Linked DNA regions of Homo sapiens. The protein of the gene in region 1 purifies or fractionates together with the protein of each later gene. This does not show direct contact. Each region holds a gene or a part of one and is shown in the gene's direction. Other genes may lie near its edges. The genes, in order: DNAAF9 and ARPIN.

What was found.
Region 2: the proteins of DNAAF9 (region 1) and ARPIN fractionate together in Homo sapiens (co-fractionation; one large-scale study listed by BioGRID). This does not show direct contact.

Annotation. Positions count from the first base shown.
Region 1 is NC_000020.11:3,253,919-3,257,729, reverse strand, and holds part of DNAAF9 (dynein axonemal assembly factor 9), read left to right. Parts: intron 1-1,518; coding exon 1,519-1,724; intron 1,725-2,445; coding exon 2,446-2,511; intron 2,512-3,811. UniProt on the Homo sapiens protein: May act as an effector for ARL3.
Region 2 is NC_000015.10:89,906,237-89,910,047, reverse strand, and holds part of ARPIN (arpin), read left to right. Parts: intron 1-1,635; coding exon 1,636-1,768; intron 1,769-3,811. Other genes in the region: ARPIN-AP3S2 (uncharacterized protein LOC100526783), read left to right, coding at 1,636-1,768. UniProt on the Homo sapiens protein: Regulates actin polymerization by inhibiting the actin-nucleating activity of the Arp2/3 complex; the function is competitive with nucleation promoting factors.

The DNA of each region.
Region 1 (3,811 bases):
TCTGTCTCAAAAAAAAAAATTAGCCGGGCATGGTGGCACATGCCTTTAATCCCAGCTACTTGGGAGGCTGAGGTAGGAGAATCACTTGAACCCAGGAGGCGGCCGTTGCAGTGAGCCGAGATTGTGCCACTGCACTCCAGCCTGGGCGACAGAGTGAAACTCCGTCTCAATAAAATAAATAAATAAATATTTTTATTTCTTTCTTCTTTTTATTTTTTGAGACAATGTCTCACTTTGTCACCTAATCCAGAGTATAGTGGTTTGATCTCGGCTCACTGCATCCTTGACCTCCCAGGCTCAAGCGATCATCCTACCTCAGCCTCCCAAGTAGCTGGGACTATAGGCGTGAACCACCATGCCTGGCTGATTTTTTTTCTTTTTTGTGGAGACAAGGTCTCCCTATGTTGCCCAGGCTGGTCTCGAATTCCCGGGCTCAAGTGATCCTCCTGCCTCGGCCTCCCAAAGTGCTGGAATTAAGGTATTAGCCACCACACCCAGCCTCTTGTTTATTTAGATCTGCTATTGACTCTTTTTTTGTTCAAATTTAACCTCGCTTTTTTCCGGATCCTTTCTCATCCTGCCTTTCAGGGAGCCCTTGCCCACTTCTTGGGTCTCCAGTCACTCCTAGCCCTCATCTCCTTAGCATGTAACACTTTTTCCCATTCTCATCTGTGTGACCTTCGTGCAACACTGCTGTACTGGTTTTTTTGTCTGTTTTGTTTTGTTTTTGAGACAGGGTCTTGCTCTGTTGCCCAGGCTGGAGTGCAGTAGTGCAATCCTAGGTCACTGCCCACCCCAGCCTCCCAAGTAACTGGGACTACAGGAACATACCATCACACCCAGCTAATTTTTTTGTTGTACTGTTGGCTGTGCCCTCCTCCCTTGGCCTCTGAGGCCTCTGCTGAGAGCCCCCCACTTCTACCAAGGGGGTTTCTTTGCTTTTCCTCAACCACCTCTTCCATAACAGCTATTCCAGCAACCACCAGGGACTATGTGGATGTCTCACGCTCAGGGTCTTAGAGACTTTCAAATGCCACAAGTGCAGAGTCAAACTCTTCCTCTTCTCCCACCTATAAACCTTTTTTTTCTCTTGTGTTTCCCTTCTGGGATAATAGTGTCCACCTGATCACCCAGATCAGCCAAGCCAGAAACTTATTTTGTTCCTCTCTGTCTCTCTCTCTTACTCCATCCTTTCTTTTCCTTTTTAAAAAACAAAACAAAATGGGATCTCCCTCTGTCACCCAGGCTGGAGTACAGTGGCGCAATCTCAGCTCACTGCAGCCTTGAATTCCTGGGCTCAAGTGCTCCTCCTGCCTCAGCCTCCTGAGTAGCTGGGACCACAAGCATGAGCCACTGTGCCCACCTACTCCATCCTTTCTAAGCTGCCACCAGTCACATCAGTTCTGTCTCTTGCATTTTCTCATGAATCTATCCCAACCATCTGCATTGTCACAGTCTTAGCATAGCTGTATCCTTTCAAGGCAGGCTCTCAGGGACTAATGTGTATTCTCCTTACAGACTCTGAGAGGACCATGGAGGTCTGCTACAACACACTGGCCAACTCCTTGAGCATCATGCCAGTTTTGGAAGGACCCACACCACCACCAGACTCCAAAAGCGTATCTCAAGACAGCAGCGGGCAGCAGGAGTGCTACCTTGTGTTCATCGGCTGCTCCCTGAAGGAAGACAGCATCAAGGACTGGCTGCGGCAGTCAGCTAAGCAGGTGGTTTCCAGAGCCCAGACAGACCTGACACAGATGTGACCAGACACCTCAGAGCTGCTGTTGGCCCTGAGAAGCCCCGCCACTGCCTCCCTGATGCCTCCCCACTGGGCTTCCTCTCCCTGGCCCAGCCAGCACTTGCAGGGACACTTTGAGAGAGGGAGGAAGCCACTGAGAGCAAACTCCAGGCAGGCCTGCTATGTTGTTTGCTTTGTGAGCCAGGTTCTCTGCAAGGTTTGGGTGCTAAGCCTTGTAGCACAGCCTTGGGGGTTTAGTTCATCCTAGAACTCTGGGACTAGAGTTAGCTGGGGCCTGGCTCTTCTGCAGATGCTCACTAGGGACCTGTCTTTATGCTGAGGGATGGGCTGCCTCACTTGGATAAGCTTCTAAACGGTTCTTGACTGTGGGGCCTCAGACTGCCCCTTTGTCTGCCTCTCATTGGTAGGGTTGAGGGATAAGAATCTACAAAGAGGCACGACCATTCCCATTTACGAAAACACTGGGCTGTCCTCTGCTGCTTGTTCCCTGCTGGCTCACAGGGCTCTGTGATGGGAAAGTGGTTTTCTCAAAGAGCAGACTAGACAGAATATTATATCCAGGCCATAGCGCACGTGCTTTCCCCACTGCTGAGATCTTAGTTGTGTAATAGAGCCCAGAGCCCTCCCCTGCCCATGCACTCCATGAGTTCTGCTGGGACCTGACCCTCCACTCCCCATCTCTGCAGAAGCCTCAGAGGAAAGCCCTGAAGACCAGGGGGATGCTGACGCAACAGGAGATCAGGAGCATCCACGTGAGTGCCTTGCCCTGGCTTCTCCCCTCGGTGGCCCAGGGCTGTCCTCGGCTTGCCTAGCTCTGTATTTTGGATTCTCTGAGTGAGGAGCTGTTTGTAGGACATGCTGGAGGTCTTGCTTCTCCCAGGCCACAGAGGGAAGCTGCGTACAGAATTCTGGCCTTTGCAGCCTCAGTGAGGAGGGCACAGGAGACCTCTGGTGTGACCTGGGCATCAGATTGAGTAGAGCCAGTACTTGTGGGAGAAGCTGATGACCAGAAGCCCTGCCTTGGCACCTTGTTCAAGCAACTGCAGAAGACCTATGTTACAGATGAACCAGCTAGAGCCCAGGCAAAAACTGTCTGGATCCAGAGGCTGCTCATAGGAAGGCTGTGGAACCTGAGGCCAGGATAAGAGGCTGATTGAGAGACCCCCTTGATGAGCCTCCCAGCCTCCAGGCTCTGACCCCCAGCCTCTGCTTCAGTCGCCATGCTCACTGGGGCCTTTTCCTGAGGGGTTTGGGGACAAAAAGCTAAAAAGGACACAGAGTCTAGGTCCCCAGGATGCCAGTAATGAGCAGGTGGGGCAGGAAAGTATTCTGGGACTCCAGGAGCCCCTGCTTTGGATTTGAGGAGGCCCCTTTCATAAACAGCTCCTATAGGCCCGGACAACCTGGGTGCTCCTGGGGAGGACAACATGGGCATAAGGTAGTCCTTATAATGCATGTTCCCCTGAAAGCCAACCGTGAACAAGGAGTTAAGTACAGGTAGTTTATTTTGGAAGTGATTCTAGGAGACACTAAATAGGAAACAGGAGGATGAAAGAGGAGAGGGGGAAACAGCCAATAAAGAGTGTGTTTGTGGCCGGGCATGGTGGCTCACGCCTGTAATCCCAGCACTTTGGGAGGCTGAGGTGGGTGGATCACTTGAGGTCAGGAGTTCAAGACCAGCCTGATCAATATGGTGAAACCCTGTCTGTACTAAAAATACAAAAATTAGCCAGGCGTGGTGGCGCATGCCTGTAATCCCAGCTACTCGGGAGGCTGAGGCAGGAGAATTGCATGAACCCAGGAGATGGAGGTTGCAGTGAGCCAAGATCACGCCACTGCACTCCAACCTGGGTGACAAAGCAAGACTCTATCTCAAAAAAATAAATAAATAAATAAAAGAGTGTGTTTGCACATCAGTACCACTGCACACCGTGGGAACTTCATCCCACTAGGACCTCCCAGAGCTCCTCACCTGAGAGGTGGGGAACCACCTCAGGCAGGGCTTGAGGTTTGCCGGGGGTGTTAGCTTCCTAGCTCCTCTGTATAGCAGAG
Region 2 (3,811 bases), on another chromosome or scaffold:
GCAGGTGGGAACACCCATCAGAGCCCCTAGCTAGCCTGCCCAGGAGAGCCCAGCAGTGTCTCCATGCTGATGTGGGGCTTGCTTGCCTCATCTGCCGTCAGGCAGGGCCTTCTCCTAGCCCCTCTTAAAACTTGCCTCCTCTGAGTTCCATTCCTGGTGATGGTGCAGTTGCCCTCCCAGCCACCGGGCTGGGAACCCTCACTGTCTCCTCCCCAGGTAAGCAATGCCAGGCCCTGCTGGCATTGGGCCCTTGCCCATTCCTCCCCCTCCCTTGCCTTCCCTTCCTCTTTCCATGGCTGCTTACCTGAGATGGGCCCTCAGCCTGTCCTGATAAAACCTTGCACCTGTCCCCCTGCCTTCTGGCTGTCCCCAGAACTCATCCCTGCCCTGCTGCCAATAGGACAAATGTCTTTCCAGAAATACATCTCTGAGGGTCTCACTGCTGCTCAGAAACCTTTCAGGATTCCTTGTCCATCAAATAAAATCCAAACTCCGAATGCCAACTCAAGACCTGTCCTGAACCAAGCCCACTTGCTTTCCCAGCCTGGGCTCCCAGAAGGCCTCCAGGTGCCCTGCGTGGCTCAAACATGCACAAGGGCCTCTTGGCTTTTATTTCCTATACTGTCCCAGGCTTTTAATATTATTCCTACAGCTTCTTATTCCCACAGTTGGCAGACCTCCCTACCCTCCAAGACTTCATCTTTCTTGATTCCACCAGGATGTGGCCTCCTATTCTTCAGGCCCTGGGAGCATTTCACCCACCTGCCTTGAACAACTGGCAAACAGCACTTATAGCACAGTTCACGCTTGGCACTGTGCTTGCCCCTCTGTTATCTCATTGAACCCTCATAATATTCTTAAACACAGACATCACGTTATCCCCATGTGATGGGGAAACTGAGTGGTTTGTCCCAGGCTGTTGGAAGGGGCAGAGTGGCTGCCCTCACCCAGGGCTCCTTTTCAGTGCCCTTTCCATTGCACCTTGGCAGCGCCCATTCCTGCTTCATGGTATTTGCGGTCCTCGGGCTTGGGTTATGGTTTTGTTTTGTTTTGTTTTTGTTTTTTGAGATGAAGTCTCATTCTGTCTCCCCGGCTGGAGTACAGTGGCAGGATCTCGGCTTACAGCAACCTCCGCCTCCTGGGCTCAAGCGATTCTCCTGCCTTAGCCTCCTGAATAGCTGGGATTACAGGCACATGCCACCACACCTGGCTAATTTTTTATATTTTTGATGGAGACAGGGTTTCACCATGCTGGCCAGGCTGGTCTCGAACTCCTGACCTCGTGATCCACTCGCCACTGCCTCCCAAAGTGCTGGGATTACAGACGTGAGCCACTGTGCCCAGCCCAAGTTATGGTTTTCTATATATACTTTTTGTCTTTGGCTGTGTGGAAGCCCTGGGCTTGCCCTGTTAGGAACTTCTAGCAGGGCTCATTATATGCGGCAGGTGCTCTTGTGAACCCATGAATGCATAAGTATTTGGGGGCAGAGGGAGCATCTGCCTAGCTTGAACATCTTTTGGAGCTGAGGTGGGCTTCTAGGGTAGATGTGAGGTTGGCGGGGCTGCAGCCGGAGCCCAGAGTGTGTGTGTTGTGGGATGAAGCCGCCCCCTCACTCTCTGTCTGCCTGGCCCCAGGAGCGCTACTACGTGCTGTATATCCGGCCCAGTCACATCCATCGCCGTAAATTCGACGCCAAGGGAAATGAAATCGAGCCCAACTTCAGCGCCACCAGGAAGGTGAACACGGGCTTCCTCATGTCGTCCTACAGTAGGTATCCTCTGCCCTCCCTCTCTCCCTCAGGGCCCTCCTGCAGTGTGGCGGCCTTTCTCTTCTGAGCCTCTTAGCCCCTGGAAAGTGTCTCTTCAGCCCTCTTGATGTTGAAGCCCTGTATGTGGCCTGAGGCTTCCACATCCACCCCTGGCCTTGCCTCCCATTTACTCAGAGGATCCCCGTTCCCTCCCCTCCATTCCAGGGGCCAGGCTGGCCTTCCCACCTCCTGCCATTTCCTGTATCTGGCAGAATCACCCACAAACCTGGCTTTGGGCTCTAACTGCCTTTGTGCAGAGCCCAGGCCAGGCCCTAGGCGGTCTCTGTTTTACTGCCCAAATCCTCTTTTGGTTCTGGGGTCTCAGTCCGTGCGTGCTATATAACAAAATACCTTAGGCTGGGTGATTTATTAACAATAGAAATGTGTTTGTTTATTTTATTTTTAATTTTTAAAATTTTTGTTTCTTTGTGCATTTTTAGTGGCTGGGTTTTGCTATGTAGCCCAGGCTGGAGTGTAGTGGTTATTCTCAGGTGCAATCATAGCACACTATAGTCTTCAAGTGATCCTCCCTCCTCAGCCTCCAGAATAGCTGGGACTGTAGGTGTGTGCCACTGCACCTACTTAAGAACAGAAATGTCTGGCTTACAGTTCTGGAGGCGGGGAAGTCCAAGGTCAGGGTGCCAGCAGATTCAGTGTCCGGTGAGGGCTTGCTTTGCGCTTCAGAGACGGTGCCTTCTTGCTGAGTCCTCACATGGCAGAAGGCAAGGCGGCTCTCTCTTCAATCTCTTCTGTAAAGCACTCATCCCACTCGTATGCCATGACTCACCTCCTAAAGGTCCCACCTCTTAATACTATCACATTGGTGATTAAGTTTCAACATATGATTTTTTTTCTTTTTTAAAAAAATTTTAGGGTGAGTGTGGTGGCTCATGCCTATAATCCCAGCACTTTGGGAGGCCGAGGTGGGTGGATCACTTGAGGTCAGGAGTTCGAGACCGGCCTGGCGAACATGGTGAAACCCCAGCTCTACTAAAAATACAAAAATTAGCTGGGCATGGTGGCGTGCACCTGTAATACCAGCTATCTGGGAGGCTGAGGCAGGAGAATCACTTGAACCCAGGAGGTGGAGGTGCAGTGAGCCGAGATTGCACCACTGCACTCCAGCCTAGGCAACAGAGTGAGACTCCGTTTCAAAAAAAAATAGTAATAATAATAATAATACTTTTTGATGGCCACTTTACTTCTAGGCATTATGTCCATACTCCATCAGTGGAGGAAAGGCAGCTGAGTTTGACTTTTTTTTTTTCCTTTTCTTTTGCTGTCTGAGACAAAGTCTGGCTCTGTCCCCCAGGCTGGAGTGCAGTGGCTCAATCTTGGATCACTGCAACCTCCGCCTCCCAGGCTCAAGCGATTCTCCTGCCTCAGCCTCCTGTTAACGTACGAATTTTGGGGGATACATTCCAACCATAGCAAGCCCTCCATGATCTTCTTCTTCTTCCTGATTTTGTCTCTGGTTGAGCCTCTTTGCTGTCTGCCCCTGGGTGAGAAGGTTTTGAGGTTGAGTGGGACTCTATCACTTTATTCATTCATACCTTCAGTTACTCATTGACTCTCTGAACATTAGGGACCATCTATATCATGTGCCAGCCCTTGTGCCACATGCTGAGAGGTCCAGGGATGAACAAGACCCAGTCGTATACTTGAAATGTTCTTAGTCCAGTAGAGGAGATGGACAGGCCCGGGCCTGGATCCCGTGAAGGGTGCTGAGCCCAGGCAGGCATGGCTGGGGATGCCCTAGAGCAGGGAATAACAGGACTGAATCCTGAAAGATAAGCAGAGGTCAGCCAGGTGCCAGGGATTTGCAGGGTGTTTCAGAGAGGCAGAGGGTGCCCAATGCCTGGCAGTTGAAGAGTTCCTGACCCAGGTATGAGAAGCCATGCAGGGCAGGCAGCAGGAGGGGCGGGCACTGAGGAGCTCAACTCTAACCAAGGGTGCAGGGCAGCCCTGTAGTGAGGTTTTAAGTAGGCAGGTGATGTGATCAG